5 separate regions of the Homo sapiens genome follow, and regions 2, 3, 4 and 5 are each reported to be linked to region 1. The links are microRNA targets in miRTarBase. Many come from high-throughput screens and were not tested one by one. Region 1 holds a microRNA gene; each other region holds the end of a gene's coding sequence.

What was found. The annotated mature microRNA hsa-miR-652-3p reads AAUGGCGCCACUAGGGUUGUG and lies in region 1 at 1,647-1,667, opposite strand. An mRNA with a match to its seed (bases 2 to 7 or 8) in the 3' UTR can be bound and repressed. Matches are read on the target gene's strand: a 7mer-m8 pairs with bases 2 to 8, a 7mer-A1 pairs with bases 2 to 7 and ends in A, and an 8mer does both.
Region 2: the mRNA of TCP1 is a reported target of hsa-miR-652-3p. The part of its 3' UTR that is shown has no 7-base or 8-base seed match.
Region 3: miRTarBase lists ISOC1 as a target of hsa-miR-652-3p. The part of its 3' UTR that is shown has no 7-base or 8-base seed match.
Region 4: miRTarBase lists SRPK1 as a target of hsa-miR-652-3p. The part of its 3' UTR that is shown has no 7-base or 8-base seed match.
Region 5: the mRNA of MRPL36 is a reported target of hsa-miR-652-3p. The part of its 3' UTR that is shown has no 7-base or 8-base seed match.

Annotation. Positions count from the first base shown.
Region 1 is chrX:110,052,904-110,057,055 of GRCh38, reverse strand. It overlaps MIR652 (microRNA 652), which reads right to left and starts at 1,727; the gene lies at 1,630-1,727. The region is part of intron 2 of TMEM164 (transmembrane protein 164); the gene reads right to left.
Region 2 is chr6:159,775,270-159,779,269 of GRCh38, forward strand. TCP1 (t-complex 1) reads right to left here. Exons shown (of 12, transcript NM_030752.3): 12 at 3,229-3,992. The coding sequence ends at 3,776. It overlaps ACAT2 (acetyl-CoA acetyltransferase 2), which reads left to right. Exons shown (of 9, transcript NM_005891.3): 5 at 1-44; 6 at 881-1,003; 7 at 2,033-2,187; 8 at 2,901-3,011; 9 at 3,390-3,843. The coding sequence ends at 3,560. Among named protein-coding and RNA genes, the nearest start is that of SNORA20, 3.1 kb to the right of the region's middle.
Region 3 is chr5:129,112,318-129,116,317 of GRCh38, reverse strand. It overlaps ISOC1 (isochorismatase domain containing 1), which reads right to left. Exons shown (of 5, transcript NM_016048.2): 5 at 2,290-3,463. The coding sequence ends at 3,317. Among named protein-coding and RNA genes, the nearest start is that of MIR4633, 17 kb to the right of the region's middle.
Region 4 is chr6:35,831,909-35,835,908 of GRCh38, reverse strand. It overlaps SRPK1 (SRSF protein kinase 1), which reads left to right. Exons shown (of 16, transcript NM_003137.5): 16 at 421-2,943. The coding sequence ends at 605. Among named protein-coding and RNA genes, the nearest start is that of LHFPL5, 29 kb to the right of the region's middle.
Region 5 is chr5:1,794,895-1,798,894 of GRCh38, forward strand. It overlaps MRPL36 (mitochondrial ribosomal protein L36), which reads right to left. Exons shown (of 2, transcript NM_032479.4): 2 at 3,491-4,000. The coding sequence ends at 3,730. Among named protein-coding and RNA genes, the nearest start is that of MRPL36, 2.9 kb to the right of the region's middle.

The DNA.
Region 1 (4,152 bases):
GAATAGATCCTAAGTATTTCCAACACACACACACACGCATACACACATAAATGATAACTCTATGATGTAATGCATGTGTTATCTTGATTGTGGTGATTTCCATATATATATATAATCATTAAGTTGAAAACCTTAAATATATACATTAAAAATAGCTAAAGTATTAAAAAAACTCAACAATAAAAAGATAAATAACCTTGAACAGACATCTCTCCAAAGAAAACACACGGGTACTCAACATGCACATGAAAAGATGTTCAACATCATTAGTCATCAGGGAAATGCAAATCAAATCCACAATGAGATGACACTTCATACCCACTAGCATGGCCAAAATATAAAAGGCAAACACAAGTGTGCATGAGGATGTGGAGAAATTGGAACCCTTTTATACTGTCGGTAGGGATGTAAAATGATGCTGCCATTTTAGAGAAACAGTCTGGCAGCTCCTTGAGAGGTTAAACATAGAGTTATCATATGACTCAGCAATTCCACTCCTATACCTGGGGGAAATGAAAACCTATGTCCAAGGGAAATAAAAACCTATGTGCACCTGAAAACTTACAGATGTTCACAGAAGTATTATCTGTAATAGCCAAAAGGCAGAAACAACCCAAATGCTCACCAACAGACAAATGGATACATAAAATGTGGCATATCCTTAAAATGGAATATTAATTGGCCATAAAAATAAGTGAAGTACTGATACATGCTAAACACAGATGAATCTCGAAAACATACTAAGTGAAAGAAGCCAGTGGAAAAAGGTCACATATTATAATTACTCAATTTCTATGAAATGTCCAGAATAGATAAAATCTATAGAAACAGAAAGTAGATTAACAATTGCTTAGGGCTGGTGAGTGGGGGAAAGGTAGGGAGGGGGGTGAGCTAAATCGTATGGAGTTATTTTTTGGATGATGAAAATGTTCTAAATTTGACTGTGGTGGTGGTTGCACATATATGTGAATATACTAAAAACATTCAATTGTACACTTTAAATGAATGAATTATATGGTATATGATTATAACCCAATAAAGCTGTTTAAAAAACAAACTTTGGATAGCTCCTTATTGCTTGATAAATAAAAGTCCAAATTCCTTAATTGGGCATTCAACTCCCTCCCCTCCTGCATCATCATTTGACCCCCGACCAGCATCATTGCTCACTACTCCCTTTTACATGCTTTTCTATCCAACCAAGATGAATTATGCACCATTACCCATATATCCCTTGTGGTCTCCCATCTGTCTTTCTTCTCGCTATTCCTTCCCCCTGAGATTCTCTCCTCCTGACTCATCTTCACATGTTAATATTCTACTTCTTTCACAAAGCCCAGTTCAAATGCTCCCTCCTATGCAAACCCCTCCCTGTTCTTCAACCCTCACATAGTAGGCACTTAAAAAACTATTTACTGAAAGAACGAAGGTACGTAGTTCTCCTATATGATGGCTCTCATTTACAGAGAAGATAATTCTCCCAAAGCCACAACTTTACTTCTTTCTTCCTTTCCTGGTCACAGCAGCAGCTCACTGCTTCAGCCCCCTTACCCTGAGGACAATCCCAAACTGGTACCTTGATGAAGAAAGTACTGACATTACATTATGCCAGGGCCGCCGAGTACAGTTGTGTAGGTTGTGCACTGCACAACCCTAGTGGCGCCATTCAATTATAGTCTATGTGAATGGCACCCTCTCCTAGGGTTGTGCAGTGCATAGCCATTCGTGGCGGCCCTGCTTGGAAACATTCCTAGTGTTTGAGAACAAAGCCAAAAAGAACACTCAATGAGAGAATCACTATGTTGTCGCTGAGAAGTAGGCAACTCAAAAATCTTGTCAAGAAAAAAGAAATTCAAGAGAATAGCATGGCCATAGCACACAAACAGCATTTGCATGGAATTGAAAACAGGAACATCCAAGAGAAAAATTGTTACTGATGTTTCTCCAGCAGTGGAGAGAGAACAGGACACACATTCTGGTCACACTACAAAGCTATGACAGACATGCAAAAAGGTACAGTTTTCCATGGACTACCAAAGCCTATATGGTCTCGCTCATGAGACTTTTCAACTCCATTAGGTTCTGATTTTAGGTTATAAAACAGTCCCTGTTTAATTTGGCTTCAGGTACCTTGATATCAGAAAGGGCTGATACACACAAGTGTTCTCATCTCTATAAAGGTCTCTCTCTCATCATCAATCGACTTATCAGCCTGGTGATTTATTAAGAAGTGTTTTGTAATGTTGGGGAGTGTGACCCAATCCACTAGAAACCAACAGCCCTGGGTAAGCTGATAAAAATTAGGCTTTGAACCTACAAACCAAGTTGCAGAGTTAGGACCCGTGTCAACTCCACCAAGGCACAGACACCCTCAAGCTCAGTCAGAGCAGCTGGCCAACTAGCTGGCCAAGTCAAAACTGCAGCCAGTAATTCAGGGCACTCCAAAATGGAGAGCCATAAAGGACTGGACATATTGGTAGTGACAACAGGTGAGCTGGTGGTAGAGCTCAAGGGTGCCAGATGTTGCGTTTGTTTCTTCTTTTTGTTCCCCACTCCAGTTCAGTTCAGCCTCCCACTTTCATATTTGCTCCACCTGGAATATTTCATTCCACTTCTTCTGTCTCCTCTAGAGATTTCCTGGATAAGTCACAAAAATTAAGCATTCTTTTTCTGAACTCCATTGGTATTTGTTGGTACTTATACACTAATCACTTATTAGTCTCATACTGTTGTTAGTAACAACAATAATGGCAGTAGTTATTCCTTACTGAGTGCTTACTAGGTGCCTGGCACTACAGTCAATGTCTTACACATATTAGTTCATATATTCTTCATAGCAATCCTATTATGTAAGAGATTATTATTTTCCTCCTGTTTGCATACAAGGAAACTGAGCTACAGAAAGGTTAAATAAATTGCCTAAGGTCGCACAACTAATAAGTGAGTCAAAGAGTCAGGCCTGGAACCCAAAACTATCTGATTCCAGAGGTCATGTTTGTTGCCAATACTACCTTTTGTCTCCACCATAAGATAATTTATCTTTTCTGGAGTTCCCTCTGCCTCCACTCCACATAGTGCCTAACACACCATCGGACATATAAAAGTCCTCCAGAACACATGCGCACATCTGCCTCTGCTCCCTGTCCAGAGCCCAGCCCAGGACATAAGCTGGAAGAGAAGGGAAGACGGTGTAGTTAGCATGAAGGGGCTTGACCTTTCAGGGAGCCACAGGAGTCCTCCTCCTCTGACCCATTTAAGAGAGGATCATGCTGCTCCTTGACCTCAATCCCAGAAAAATATGTAGAACAGGATGACCTGGTTACCTTGAAACTCGTCAAGAAAACTCTGAAGTAACAGAGCCTAGGCCAACCCATGGGAGGGATGGATGGTATCCAGTTCCCTGAAGCAAGAGGACCAATTGTGTCAGAGTCAAAGCCACATGGGACAGCTAATGTTTGCAGTGCTCCACCACCAATGAACTCTATGGCCAAAGTTGGGGTTTTTATGATGGTGGGGGAGAGGTGTATTTTTTTTAAAAGAAAGTATTTTTTACACCTCCTTAAGCCTCAGTTTTCTCATTGTTTAAAACAGAAATAAGAATACCTACCATTTGCAGTGCTTCTAAGGCATAAAATGAGAATGTAATAAAAGCACCTATTTCCTGGTGCCTACATCAGTTTGTTCTTCCTGAGGTTCTGAGCACACAGTGATGCAGGACATAATTCCTGTCTGCAAGAAGCTCACAGTCTGGCTAGCAAAGGTCTTCTACGGCACCCTGTCAACCAAAATTAAAGCTGGTTGGTGAGTTAGCCTAACTCTCAGCAAGACATTTTATCAAAGGAAAATTTTGGTGGGAAAGAAGGTAAGAGCTGTTGGCAAGAGTAAAGATTGTGGGTTATATCTTTGCTTTCCTATCTTTGCTGCAAATCTCCCATCCACACCTTTGTATTAAAAAATTGGGAAAGGGGACTCCATTAATCACTGTTTTAAAAAATGATGCATGTAGGCCAGGCATGGTGGCTCACGCCTGTAATCCCAGCACTTTGGGAGGCCAAGGTGGGCAGATCATGAGGTGAAAAGATCAAGACCATCCTGGCCAACATGGTGAAACCCCGTCTCTACTAAAAATACAAAAAAATTAGCTGGGCATGG
Region 2 (4,000 bases), not on the chromosome of region 1:
TTTTGACAAAGAGATTGTACCAGTTTTGGTGTCAACTAGAAAAGGTGAGTATATCATAGTGGTTTAAACATCAACCTATTTATAGGTAAGAGTAACATCTAAAAGAGTAATACATAGGAATCTTTAGAAATTATATCTTAGTTATGTTTTTCAGGTTGCAAATATATGTCCTGGATACATGAATGTGGGGAGGGGGTATGCTGGGTTTACAGGACACGGTAACATGGGACCTATGTCAGCACTCAAGCACTCTTGGTTCCAGAGCGTCCATGACCACTGTGCACACACAGCAGGTTTCATGAGAAGCTGGAGCACTGGCTCATGGTTGTTAGGAGGCACCAGCTGACCTGTTTCCTGTATAGGCTCAACCTCCTCAGAAGTGGACACCCATTACTTCTCGCTGTTTCTGTGTGATCTCCATTTCACATTTCTAAAGGGTGGATCTTTTGGGGTCACTCGCTATTTTCTAATACAGAATGCTCCCGTCAAGCTCCCTTATTGATAACTGATATCTCTTATGTCCTGCCAGCAGTGCACGATTGGCTTTGAGACTGCCTGATCCACTCACTCGTAACCAGCCAAGTACTATGACCCAAACTATAGCAGAATTTGGCACAAACAGGTCCCTGGTAGCTACTTTCCTCAGGAAGGCCTATGGATTTGGAAAACACAGGTGTCTCATAAGGACATACTCATAAATTGTTTTCATGTACAATAATTCTTGTGTGTACTTTCCTCCTGTTGTCATCAAAGTGGTCACATATTAAAACTTTTCTGCTAAATATGAATCCTCATGTTTAATGGCAGAGAACCCACCATTCCCAGCACACTTACTTCTGTCTCTGGACTAATCTTGAGTAATTGGTTTTCCTTTGCTTAGGTCTTATTGAAGTTAAAACAGATGAGTTTCCTCGCCATGGGAGCAACATAGAAGCCATGTCCAAGCTAAAGCCTTACTTTCTTACTGATGGAACGGGAACAGTCACCCCAGCCAATGCTTCAGGTTAGATTTTCTGAAGGACATCTGGGGGAATACTATGTTCTATAATGTCTACCGAGTGAATATTTTTCTCTTTATTTATATACAAAAGTACTATTTTTTGGGACAGGGACTCACTCTGCCAGCCAGGTTCGTGTGCAGCAATATGATCATTGCTCACTTGCAGCCTCAAACTCCTGGGCTCAAGTGAGCCCCCTGCCTTAACCTCCCAAGTAGCTGGGGGACTACAGGCATGAGCCACCACACCCAACTCAATATTTATGTACAAAATTATTCTTAAAACAGTTTAAGGAAACATGTCATTTCTCTGTATTTGATCATTGACTTAACCTATACTGAAAGAATTAATTTGGTTTCTTGACATCCCAACTAGACATACAAATGAAGAAGTAAATTAGGGAACTTCAGTTTATCTACCTTTGTATTTTTCCAGTACCAGAAACTCCCAATACCTCCTTGTGAAGCCCAGGCTTATTCTTCCATTTCCTGTCAGAGATCTCCCCTCCCCAACTGCTGTAATCCTTTTTTTTTCTTTTTGAGACGGAGCCTCACTCTGTCGCCCAGGCTGGAGTGCAGTGGTGCAATCTTGGCTCACTGCAATCTCCGCCTCCCAGGTTCAAGCAATTCTCCTGTCTCAGCCTCCTGAGTGGCTGGGACTACAGGCGCACACCACCACACCGGCTGATTTTTCTATTTTAAGTAGAGATGGCTTTCACCCTATTGGTCAGGCTGGTCTCAAACTCCTGACCTCAGGTGATTCACCCTCCTCCACCTCCCAAAGTGCTGGGATTACAGGCGTGAGCCACCACGCCCAGCCCCGACTACTGTAATCCTACCACTTTCTCTAGTTGGAAAGTTTTGTGGTCAATATATTGCCAAACATAATTTCTATGTAAAGTCTGTTGAATTATAGTAAATGCCTTAGCCAACAGGTAAAATCATTTAACTCATGTCTTCAGGTGGTAAAGAAGCCACAGATATGTAACTGAGGTTAATAAGCATGGTAGAAATTAAGTCACTCATATTTTACAGGAATAAATGATGGTGCTGCAGCTGTCGTTCTTATGAAGAAGTCAGAAGCTGATAAACGTGGGCTTACACCTTTAGCACGGATAGTTTCCTGGTCCCAAGTGGGTGTGGAGCCTTCCATTATGGGAATAGGACCAATTCCAGCCATAAAGCAAGCTGTGAGTATAACCCTATTCCCTTTTATGAAATTTGTCTTCCTGTTAGCCTTAAGTGAGCTTATTCATGTAGTTAGCTCTAGTCTTTCCCTACCAGAAGAGTAACCAAGAGCATTTATTTCTATTTTTGAGATAAGGTCTTGCTCTGTTGTCCAGGCTGGAGTGCAGTGGCACCATCATAGCTCACTGCAGCCTCAAAACTCCTAGGCTCAAATATTCCTCCTGCCTTAGCCTCCCATTACCTCGAACTACAGGTGCACCACGCCTTCTTCATTTCGTAGAGACAAGGTCTATGTCGCCCAGGCTGGTTTTGAACTCCTGAGTTCAATTGATCCTCTTGCCTTAGGCTCCCCAAGTGTTGAGATTTCAGGTGTGAGCCACTACCCCCAGCCACTGAGAGCATTTGGATCACATGCTTTCTAGGGGAACTGATTCTGTTACATTAGCCTTAGGTACACATAACAGATGCTACTGGTTCAAAATTTTAAGACAATTTAGAATTTCTAAGGGATCTTTTAGATCACACCCTTAACCTTTTGGATGGAATGGATGTCACTAAGGCAAAAATGTGTGAGAATGTCACTGTATTAACCTAAGAACAAACCAAAGTAGCAGTTACCAGTATCATGCAGCATATATTTATGTTGACAAAGAATGGTTTAACTTTAGCCTTTCCACCCAAGTTTAGACCTCTTTTCTATGAATCTTTCCTCTAGGTTACAAAAGCAGGTTGGTCACTGGAAGATGTTGACATATTTGAAATCAATGAAGCCTTTGCAGCTGTCTCTGCTGCAATAGTTAAAGAACTTGGATTAAACCCAGAGAAGGTAAAGATGCACAAGTAACCCTGAGAGCTTACCAGTGAATTTCACAATCCAATTTTAAGATAGTATCTTCTAGGTGTTGGCCATGTGGGTAATAGTTAAAGAAATACTAGTTACTAGGACTGAGTTCATTACTTCCCAAGGTTTAAAAAAAAAAAAAAAAAAAAAAAAAGACATTGGCTTACTTGGCATAAAAGGAACGAGGTAAGATAGGCAGGGATGAATTTTCACAAAGGTGTAAATTTATTCCTAAGCAGTTAAAATGAAAATTTGAGTTTGAAAGGGTAGCATGCTGATACATTAAGAGGAAAAAGACAAGTTTAAGATTTTAAACTGTGTCCACAGAAGAATAAACAATCTAAATCTTTTCTCCCCCGTTAGGTCAATATTGAAGGAGGGGCTATAGCCTTGGGCCACCCTCTTGGAGCATCTGGCTGTCGAATTCTTGTGACCCTGTTACACACACTGGAGAGAATGGGCAGAAGTCGTGGTGTTGCAGCCCTGTGCATTGGGGGTGGGATGGGAATAGCAATGTGTGTTCAGAGAGAATGAATTGCTTAAACTTTGAACAACCTCAATTTCTTTTTAAACTAATAAAGTACTAGGTTGCAATATGTGAAATCAGAGGACCAAAGTACAGATGGAAACCATTTCCTACATCACAAAAACCCAAGTTTACAGCTTGTACTTTACTTTAATGTGTAATACTCAACTCAAGGTACAAGACAATTGCATTTAACATTGTTATAAATAAAAGGAACATCAGATCAATCATTAAGGGCTCCAGAGTGAACAGCATCTTCATAACTTCCATGTTTATCATCTTTACTTTCTGGATGTAATTTAATAAGATCATCAATTCGAAGAATGGTGATTGCAGCTTCTGTTGCAAATTTCAAACTCTTAACTTTAACTATGGTTGGTTCAAACACCCCTGCTTGTTTGTTGTCTCGAGGTTTACCATTGCTCAAATCAAGACCAATCCTGCAATT
Region 3 (4,000 bases), not on the chromosome of region 1:
AATTAATAATGAAAATGACTAATTTTCATATATTTTAGCCATTTCCCCAAATTAGTTAGGAAATGTGCTTTAGAGAAAATCATCAAGGAAGAAATAAGACTAGATTTAAGGTTACAGCCAGGGAAAGTTATTAATTAGTAGCAAGAGTATATCCCATTAGCTTTGCCAATCAAAATTATTGTTACAGAAATTATAAAATGCATACTCTTTTGTATATATTTATTGTTCCTCTCTCTTTGATAATCCTTAGCATTATCACTTAATGTAAGAAAGAACAGGACAGGGAATTAAGTAACCTCAGTTCTCATCCTGCTGTGCAACTTTGGAAAAGTCATTTATTTCTGGGCCTCACTAACTGTGTCTGTAAAATAAAACCATTTTAGAATTTGGGAGCTGAAATGGACCTTTGAGATCATGATCTTTATAGTTCCACCCAGTTCTAAAGTCATATTTACACAAACATCAACTTTTAGAGAGGGAATATATTCCACGTTGAGAAATGTATTACTTTAACGGATGTAACAGGATATTTTGTTTCCTGATTGGAATAAGTTATCACTTTTAATTTTAGAATAAGTTTCTACAGATGTTTTAGCATTTCAATAAGTGAATCCTCTTGCTCCTGCTCCCATACCCTTGCAATTCAACACAATGACTACTCTTTTGCTTATGTAGTCAAGTTCTCTATTTACATCAGTTGAAAGAATTTCATTATCCTACAAAGTTACAGATGCTTCCAATTTTAAGGCATAATGTATTATAATCAATTTGGTTTTCTTGTAATAATAAAGCCTTGTCAGTGACCTGCTTGGCATGATGTACAAAAAAAGAGAGAAGGCAGAATTCACAGTTATTCTGAACTTTAGTATTATATTGACATTCCTGGACCTCTGATATAATTTAATTCAATTCACATTTACTGAGAATTGTATCTGATTTTGTGCCATAGCATAAGTTTCCTAGGGGCATCTTTTTATCCTAAGCACAAAGCACAATGTTTAGAACTTAGTGGGTTTTCAAAATGTTTCCAGAATGACTATATATAATTCACGGTCTCTGCTTCCAGAGAGCTTATAATATAGCAGGAAAGATGGAAATATGACAAATGACAAAATGAAATAAAATACTAAATCACATGGCGGTGTCTGTGTTATACAGAGTGGCCACCAGAGATGTTAATGTTGTAAACCCTGGAACCTGTGAATATGTTGTTACACAGCAAAAGAAAACTTAGGTTGCAGATGGAATAAGGTTCTGATCAGATGACCTTAAAGCACATGAGCTCTTAAGTCAGAATGAGAAAGACAGAAGAGTGAGTCAGACAGATGTGACATAAGAAAAAACAGATACACCTTCATTGGCTTAGAAGAGGTAGAAATGGGGTCAAAAAAGCCAAAAAAAAAACCAAAAAAAAAAAAAACAAAAAAAAAACATGGGTGAATGCTAGAAGCACAGAGCAGCAAGGAAACAGTTTCTTCCGTACAGCCTCCGGAAAAGAACACGGCCCTGCTGATACCTTGATCTTAGCCCACTAAGACTCATTTCAGAATTCTAACCTACAGAACTGCGAGAATACACTTGTGCCGTTGTTTTACGACACTGTTTGTGGTATAATAGTTTGTTATGGAAGGCAGGGGAAACGAAGCTGACGTCACAGAATTAGTTTCACCTGTGAAAAGGCTTCACTGTACTGGTATTTCACTGAGCCCTGAAAGGTTTGGGTGCAGTGGAGGAAAACAGTTGTCTGGAGTTAAATTCTCGCTATTTCAAATATGGTCCTTTCTGAACAGCACTGGTGGAAAATGCCCAATTTTTGGAAATGCGAAATGTCACCTTGGAAATGCAAAATGTCACCTCAGGCTGCACAACAGACCTACTGAGTCAGCATCAGCATTTTAACAAGATCCTCAAATAATTTGCATTCATATTAAAGTTTGAGAAGCACTAGGTTAAATTTAATAAAAACTTTTTAAAGGTGCAGAAATCTTTGATTCTTCTTTTTTGACACACAAATGGTTGGAAAAAAGTATTTAAACACACCAGGTTGCTATTTGTTACCACTGCCAATAGGAAAAATAAAAAAAATCTGCTCTTAATGAAGAAGGCCTTTCACCCTTTAGTAAAATCCATCTGCCCCTACGTACAAAGGATTTTCCTTCTTTGAAAACTCCCATGAGTTGAAAGATTATAAATGTCAAGATTTTATTACCTTAAATAAATATTAGAATCCCTGGAAGAATACTCATAGAGCCATCTTGTGGAGGACAAAATAATTTCAATCACAATACATTTTCTTTAATTACTTTAATATAAAAGACAGCAGTTTCACATTTCACATATTTGAAAAACATTTCAAAACCCTCTAACAAGTATTTAATGAAAATAAATTTATCGAAGAGAAACAATGACCACAAAATTAATACTACCAAATCATTACTGAGACTTTTTGCATTACAATATTTGGAGAGTAGGTGAAGAAAATATAGAACAGAACATGAACATTTTAAAATGATATTCCACCCAAGCTTTATCTTTTTGCTAAATCTTGTGGACACTAGAATATATATTCAAGATGTTGGTAAAGATATTCAGCAAGCCATACTTCAAAGATGTTAAAACAGCCCTCCACCAATAATATGGCATTGCAAACCCTTCTATCCCATCCCTTTTCAGTTAAAAGAGAGAATATTAACAGAGATTTAGTAATAGTGACCAAAATAAGAAATCAGTATAGTCAAGAAAGATATGTAATTATTCAACATCATTTGGTACGGATAGATCAATGCAACTCACTAAGTGGACAACATTGTGAGGGGAGTGGGTAACATGATTCAGAGTCCTGTGGGTAAATTCATATGCAATAATCTTATTCCAATCAATCTGTAAAGTAAAAGCACTACATCCACATTAACATTATAACATCTTACAGTAATATAAAAGCCAAATCATTGTTGGTACGTCATTTTCTTTAAAGTGAACAATTTAAGAAAACTTCACAAGAGTCTGCACTTTGGAAAGATACGATCAGAGTACACAGTAGAGACAAAACAGGCATCTTCATTGTAATTTTTTTTAATAAATAAAAGCACATTAACAAAAAAGGAAGGTAAGCAGCACCGGAAGCCTTTGACGTTTGTAACTAAATGCTGGTACTCAAATGGTCTAGCTGGTTAAGTTTCACTAGGAGGCGCAAAAAAGGAGCCGTTTTTGACTTAACATTTTAATTCTAGTAGAGATAAGAAGAGCTTGTGTGGGCTTACAGTCCTTCACCTGACTGTCCTTCACCAGTGAGTAGCATACCAGTTCTTCAAATGTCCTATACTTTGGAAAGCAGACCCGACTCTGGAGCACTCGCCTTAATTAGATTCTGAATTTCCTTGAATTTTGGATGGTCCTTATCAGCTACCAGCTGAAGCAGAACAGCCTCACTCGTGGTCACTATGATCCCGGTTCGAGCGAGACGCTTGAACAAAAAGATAAAGGCAAATCAAGAAATAAGCATGAGAATGAACACTATTTCAGAAGAGTAACACTATGCTGGGATGCAATAATTAGTGTCCTCTACTGAAACCGTGGTTCCCAGCCATACCATCAAGTTCAGTGATGGGGATGGATTTCAAGACCAGGCATACCACAAAGTCAATATGATTATTCTTAATATTAGTAAAATGGAGTAGAACGAGTAAAAGGGAACAGGTAGCCAAAGTTATGACATATATGTGCCCAGAACAGGAAAGTCATCAAGGCAAATGACTGTAAAACATGAGATGAGAGAGAGAAAAGGAATGGTTGTTACTACGTGCCCATCACTGAACATCTGGACATTTAGTTGCTGCTATTTCCTGAACACTCCTGGCAGGTTTGTGCTTCATGTCTTACTCATTCATTGACTCAAATGAGGGCTGCTTGTGACTTCTAAATTTATTAAACTTTTATTTCTATTTCTACTACTGAGATTTTTTAAAAGGTGCCTCTGTCCACTTTTCCCCCTCTGTAGTTT
Region 4 (4,000 bases), not on the chromosome of region 1:
TTACTAAACTATTGAGCACATACACAAAAAAAGAGTATAAGCAAATTATTCTCGGTATGTGGTACTAGAGTGTCTCTGCACACCATATAAGACCATGTTGAAGACATAGGCATTTCATGTTTATTTTAGTAGTAAATACCTACTTCTTGATTGTCACACCCAGTTTGACTGGGACCAAAAAAATCCTAGAATAGGGGAGAAAACAAATTACCTTAAATTTTTGGAGCCGTATGAAGAATAGAGGCACTTCTTTCTGAGGCATATGTCAGAAAAGAAATGCTTTGTGAATGAAGGATTAGATTCTGATTGCAAAATTTGATTCCTCATAGACTACATGGGTTAGTTTGTGGGTTTCCACAAGAGTACCTTGTCATTTGTCTGTGTTGATCAGTGGCTTTTTCTGTACTGTCTTCACTGCAGGTGACCTGAAACATATCACGAAGCTGAAACCTTGGGGCCTTTTTGAGGTTCTAGTGGAGAAGTATGAGTGGTCGCAGGAAGAGGCAGCTGGCTTCACAGATTTCTTACTGCCCATGTTGGAGCTGATCCCTGAGAAGAGAGCCACTGCCGCCGAGTGTCTCCGGCACCCTTGGCTTAACTCCTAAGCCCCTGCCCAGCACCACAGCAGAGATCACACACTGACCCTCCGCCCTTCCCCTTCAAGCATTTTCCTCTTCCCTTTTCAGGGTGAAGCTCTTCCTTCAAGAGTTTCTAGATCTTGTTTTTTTTTTAATCCAACATGTTCATTTGGGTTTGCTTACTTGACCCTGTGGAGATCCCCACAGCCATTGGGCATCCTAGGTGAATTTGGCCTTGGTTGGGCTCTGCCAAAGACTAATGGACTAAAATGTGAAACAGCCTCTTGCCCTGTACCTTTCCTTCCCATTAGGACATCCTTTAAATTATAAGCATCCTTTTTGAAAAGAGCTATGAAGGTGTATGAGCCCATCCTTTTATTCATTGACTCTAAGAGTCAAATTTTCTAGTGCATATCCTATTGCCAGCATAAGGATGAGGAGGGGGAAAGGGTCTTAATTCTATGTACAGCAGAGACATTAAACTTGCTGTGTCCGGGCTGCATCATCTTCCTGGACTGTTTCTGTTGTTCTCTGTGTTCACATTTTTTCCTGCAACTTTTAAGCTACTGTCTTTTTTAAATAGCTATATGAACACCAAATTTGGGTACCATTTTATCACTGTTCAAAGCACTGTCAAATTCCTTTCATCCTTTAATAGTTAAGATCTTTGAATCTTCAGTCTGATTTTTAATGTAAGCAAAAACAGAACCATTGAATAGTAATTTCTTGAGAACCTCAGGTGTTCTATAAACAGTCCTTTCCTGTATGTCTTCTATTACCCTAAGACCAGAGTTATTTTGGTTGGTTGTTTTGTTTTATTTTTTGTTTTTGTATCCATGGCTGGCACTTTACTCATTGCACTTGAGTTTATTGCCCCATAACTAAAGGATCAGGATGATGGTAGAACGGAGATCTGGGTTTCAGAGCTTTCCCATTTAAGAAAAATAGATCTTGAGATTCTGATTCTTTTCCAAACAGTCCCCTGCTTTCATGTACAGCTTTTTCTTTACCTTACCCAAAATTCTGGCCTTGAAGCAGTTTTCCTCTATGGCTTTGCCTTTCTGATTTTCTCAGAGGCTCGAGTCTTTAATATAACCCCAAATGAAAGAACCAAGGGGAGGGGTGGGATGGCACTTTTTTTTGTTGGTCTTGTTTTGTTTTGTTTTTTGGTTGGTTGGTTCGTTATTTTTTAAGATTAGCCATTCTCTGCTGCTATTTCCCTACATAATGTCAATTTTTAACCATAATTTTGACATGATTGAGATGTACTTGAGGCTTTTTTGTTTTAATTGAGAAAAGACTTTGCAATTTTTTTTTTAGGATGAGCCTCTCCTAGACTTGACCTAGAATATTACATATTCCTCCAGTAAGTAATACTGAAGAGCAAAAGAGAGGCAGGATTGGGGTCACAGCCGCTTCTTCAGCATGGACCAAGTGGGCCTTGGGGATTGCAGCGTTCTCGAAGTGGCTGTAGGACTCGAATTTACAGAAAGCCACAGAGGTGCAACTTGAGGCTCTGCTAGCAAGCCACCAGTGAGGCTATTGGGTAACCACCTTTCTATACAGGAGATTGGAATCTACTTTGTCATTTATCCACCACAGTGACAAAGGAAAAGTGGTGCCGTTATGCAATCCATTTAACTCATAAACATATTACTCTGAGTAACTGGCCAGCCATTCATCGGATCCTTCATTGGGTACTCCTGAAATCAGACATGTTCCTGTAGAAAGAATTTTAAGTTAGGCTTTCTATGCACCTATCAAGAATCAAGAGAATAGATTGTATCAAACAACGGCAGGGAAATCCTTCAGCAATTCTAATCCACTTTGGGTTTTCAGCTGTTTTTACATCTAAAGCAATAGACTAGAACTGAATTATCTTCTACATAGTAAAATCACAATTGTGGAATTACAGGAATTCTGGTGATATTAAGGTGAAATAACAAAACACAAAAGGCCCTATTTTAACAGTTGATGTGACAGTAAGTTTTAATAGAACCTGTAACTTCATTTTGGAAATGCTTCTCCACCAAATAAGGGCTTTTTCCCCTATTTAAGGAGCCAGATGGATTGAAAGATGTGGAAATAGGCAGCTGTAGATCTTGATCTTCCAGGTACCCCATGTACCTTTATTGAGCTTAATTATAATACTGTCAAATTGCCACGATCTCACTAAAGGATTTCTATTTGCTGTCAGTTAAAAATAAAGCCCTAAATACATTTTTATTCTTTCTACTGAGGGCATTGTCTGTTTTCTTTGTAAATGCCGTACAATAAACAAATTATTTAATAACCTACATGTTTCCAAAAATCTCTGTTCATTTGTTGTCCAAATTGCTCTGCCCTGAGTAAAAGGAGGAAAAGATTGGTTGAGTATGCTTTTTTAATTTAAATATGCAATGAAAGTGTACAAATTGCACACTTGCCATTTTGTGGGGTTCATAGTTTTGCTTCTAGTTTTAAATTGGGAGTGGGGTAGAATTAACAGCCAAATTAACATTTTTGGAATACTGTTTTTCAGCATTTTTTTTTTAATTGTTTTTCCCTACATCCAATAGCACTTTCTTCCAGAAGATTTGTCAGGGGTGGTTGTTTTTCTCAAATTATAAATGCACGGTACGTGCAAAATTCAGAAGACTTAGAAATATAAGCTCTTATTAAGGCAATGGCATGATGTATTACACAGGCTTTCATACACTTATCTCATTTCTTGGATAGATTCTTGAACTGTCTGGGCCAGAGAGCACATTTTTGAGGCTTTTAATAAATATTGCCACCGGGCGCGGTGGCTCATGCCTGTAATCCCAGCATTTTGGGAGGCCAAGGCAGGTGGATCACGAGGTCAAGAGATTGAGACCATCCTGGCCAATATGGTGAAACACTGTCTCTACTAAAAATACAAAAATTAGCCAGGCATGGCGGCGTGCACCTGTAGTCCCAGCTACTTGGGAGACTGAGGCAGGAGAATCACTTGAACCTTGGAGGTTGCAGTGAGCCAAGATCACGCCACTGCACTCCTGTCTGGGCAACAGCAAGACTCCGTCTCAATAAATAAATAAATAAATAAATAAATAAATAAATATTGCCTAACTTATCTGGACAACTAGCAGAATGGTTGGACTGTTTTTCTGTATACACCAATGTATGAACAGGCCTATTATGAATCGCTAGTTTGTGCCCTGCCCCCTCCCCACAGGAATATCGTTATAATTTGCATATTGGATTACTGGTGAGGTCATAAACTTTTCATAGGTATTTGCATTTTTTGATTATTTATGTAAATTGTCCAGCTTTCTGTTGGAGTGCTTCCGTATTTGATGACTTGGTCAGGACTCGTTATATACTAGAGATAATTTATTTTTTGCTTCATACACTTGTCTAGTTTTTAATTTACTTTTCATTTTTATTTGTGGTAGTTTTTA
Region 5 (4,000 bases), not on the chromosome of region 1:
AAACACGAGGCTTCCATGGAAGCTTCTTGCCGGAGGCTGGACACTGAGGAATGGACAGGATCAACACTCTTCCACCGGCTCTTCCACCTCCCGATCACTTCCACCATCGCTGGGGGAAGAACGAATGCACCGCGTGGAGTGCTTCCGCCACAAAGCAGCACATCACCTCTGCTCGGAGACCCTGCTGGTGACCCTCAGCCAGCCTCATAGGCCACAGCAGGTCTCACAGCCATGCCCACTCGCAGGGAGGCAGGGAAGCCCCAGCCCCCACCGGTCCGGCACAGGAAGGAGACCTGGACCCTGGGAGTGCCGGTCTCGCCTCCCACTCTCCTGGGTGAGTGACAGCGACGCTGCCAGGTGGGTGGTCCATCAGTTAGACCTGGTCCGTGAGTAGCCTCCTAGGTGGATACAAACATGACAGCGTCCCACAGAGCACCTCGCCTCCTTCTGGAAATGCATAGACAGCTCCTATGTTCTTCTCTCCATCTGGGCATCATTTACTCTTCCTTCACTTGCACTGCTGTCCCCAGTTGATCTTACTTTAAAAGTCCCTCAGAGAATAACCTAATAACGTACACCTGAATAGCACTTCTAACTTCTCACAGTATTTTCAATCCGTCTTTCAGTTCATTGGCACCACACCTTCAGGAGACAGGGAGGACATTGGCAAGACAGGGCTGGCATCTGGCAGGGCCCCAGGCCACCCGTAGGTCTCGCGAGTGCAGGGACAGCTCCTGACAGGATGACCCTGCCGGCCCACGTGCCCACTCCTCCTCTCTCTGCAGTCGCCTTTCTCTGTGCCCATGAGGACCTGCTCAGCCCACCTTTGGGTGGCTTGGAAGTGCCTGGGATTTAAGTCCCCACACGGTCACCCTCAACCACCAGTGACGAGCATCTGTGGATAAACGCCCCCCCCCCCCCAGTCCTCATCCCCTACAGGACACCAAGGTCCATTCCGCCAGAGCTCAGGGGACACAACAAGGTGGCACCCGGTGTCGCTCTGGTTCTGTGCCCTGGAAGCTCCTCTCCCTCCCTGACTCACATCCCCACTCCCCATCCTGACTTCCGAGATCACCTCCCAGTGGTGCACCTGCATCCCAGCCCTCGTCATGGCAGGCGGCAGCAACCCTGGTTCATTGATGGGGAAACGTGTTGCCCCCCAGGGAGTGCTTGACAGTGTCTGGGGCACTTTTGGTTGGCCCTGCTTGTGTGTGGGGTGCTCCCGACATCTTGTGGTGGAGCCCAGGGATGCTGAACACCCGGCAGTGCCCAGGATGGGCCCGGAGCACAACCCAGCCCCAGATGTCCACAGTGCCGATGCCCAGGATTCCTGGCCTGGTTCTGCAGAATTCTTTTATTAATCACTTATTCTGGACTGAAGCCTGGATAGGTAATTATCAGCCTTAGATTTCTACTCAAGCAAAATTAGCAGAATCCCACCTTTCCCCGTTGGATCAAGCGTGCCATGAAATCCATGCCTTCTTTATTCCTTCCTGTTGGCTCCTGTGCCACGCTGCCTTGCTGGGGATTTGTCTGTGCAATTGTCAAGAGGCCACGACTGTGTGCCCACGTTTGCATGGCACGTAAGCACATCACACCCAACTGCAGGCATGCAGCCGGTGGTCAGGTCTCCCCCCAGAGCACTGCGTACTGCAGAAACACACCCAGTTTTCATCCACGCAGGATGGCTTGGATGCCCCCTGCCCGTGCCCAGCCTCAGGCCCCTCCTCGGGTTGCCTCCCCTGCAACCAAAGTTTCAGCTTGGCCGTCATCCCCTGCAGGGAGCATCCTTGACCTCTTGCCTTGGAGGGCCTGGCATGCTTCACACACAGCACTCACCAGCCTGTTTCACACGCTCCTACGCAGTAAGGGTGTGAGGGCAGCAGCACCTCTTCTCCTCCTCACCCCAGGGCCCAGGCTAAGGGTGCTCGGGAAGCATCAGCAAGCCATGCTGGGGGCTGTCAGGACCCTGTGGTTCTCAAAACCACATCACCCACCCCGTGAGAGATCAGAGACATGGACAGCACACGCTGGCTGAAGGTTGCAGTCTGCTGAGGGTCACTACAGCGGTGCCACTGACCCATCACACCCTCCCACACTGCCTGTTCAGGTAGTGTATGCAGACACACGCGTATATATGTGGACACACTCATGCATGCACACACACGTGCCATATACACACATGCACGCACACACACACGCTTGAGGAAAGTCCTCTCTCTTGCTGAACTATTCTCAGCCCCAGTGCATAACAGGTCTCCTAGTGGGGTCTGGCTTCTGACACTTTCAGGGGCCCCCGTGACAGACACTCTAGTGCATCAACTCCTCACTTAAGAACGGCTCGAGAGAGGGCTTCCCTTTCACTGCACAACAGAAGCAGGCTCTTCGCAGAGCTGGTTCCCTTTTCTTTCAGGTAATAACGCTCTCCACCTTCTTCAACTGGCCAGACGCCTGCGGGCTGCAATGCCCATGTCAAGCTGCTTGCAGAGGCCCTTTGTGAGGGTGAATGGGCACAGCACAGAGTTCACAGCAACACACACCGGCGTCTGCTCCCCCTGGAGAAGTGATGTGGGTGCTGGGGAGGAGCTTTGGCCCTCATGTGGCCATGCTGCCCCCTCTGCCGCCCCACCAGGCCTTTCTGGGTGACCCTGCTGCGCCCCTGCTGCTGATCTGGGCAGGAGGGCGCTCCCCCCGCGCTAGGCTTCTTGCGTGGTCTCCTGTCTCACAAAACTCCTTTCTGGGAGAAGGGGAGGTGTCCCTGGCCAGGAGGAAAGGAGCCGTGAGAAGGCTGTCGCATCTCAGCATCTGCTCTGGGTTGGACTGTGCTCCCCACCCCCAAATTCATGTTGATGACAGTGCTCCCCCAAGGCATGGGGCTCACTCAACTATGAATCCCGATGACCAGGGAAGGACCAGCCCACTCCATCCCTCCAAGTCCTTACCAGTTGTAGGTGTGGTCATCCTCTAGCAAGGGGAGCTCCTTGCCTCCCCCTGAATCTGGGCTCACCCTAGGGACTGAAAGAGTGCGGTAGAAATGACACGCTGGAATTTCTGAGGCTGGGTCATAGGAAGCCTCGTAGCATCTGCTTGGGTCTCTCGGGACACTCTCGGGAAGCTCACTGTGGGGCAGTGCAAGCCACGCTGTGGGCCCTGCCTGAGGAGGTGCTACGTACAGCCTGAGGAGCACTGAGACCCCAGACAGGAGAGCCGGTGCCATCTTGGAAGTGGGTCCTGCAGTTAATGCCACACAGATCAGACAAACTGCTCAGCTGAGCCCATCCCAAATGCCTCACAAAATCGTGAACAATGTAAAATGGCTGATTTAAGCCACCAAGCCTTGGCTTGTACAGCGACGGGTGACCAAAACACCACTTCTTCCAAGAGGCTCTAAGCAGCCTCACGGAGACATAGAGAAGTCCTGCCCAGCCTCACCCAGCACCATCCAATCCCTACCTGCAGCCTGAGTTCAGAGAGAATGAATGAACTAAGCTATTCGGAAGGTCTATTTTAATAGGAAAATGTTTTTTAGTTGGAACGTTTTGGAAATAAGATAACGCAATGTCTTCTATAGTTACTCATTTACACTGAAACGTGATGGGTAACTTTTAGGGCGTTTGCTTCCAGTCACTTTCCCCTGACTCCTTGATGTGATAATTCCTTCCATAAGATACAACCATTCTCCCAAGTGATGCGATGACGAGTATGTGCGTGACTCTGGAGGGAAAGGGTCTACATCTGTCTCTGCTTGTGCCTCGGATGGGTTTTACAGTAGACGTACCACCGACCCCGCCTCTTCACCAGGTAACAGTCCTTGCAGCGCTTCTTAAGGACAGTCTTGTTTTTGAACCCCAGCGCAGGCAGCAGATGGGGCAGGAGGCCGGGTGAGAGAAGTGAGCGCACTGCTGCCCCGGGTTCCACAGCCACGGGGGCTGCACCTCGAATGGATCCAAATAGAAATGTGGAGAGGGCTCGAGGCTTCACCGTGTGACGACTGAGATAG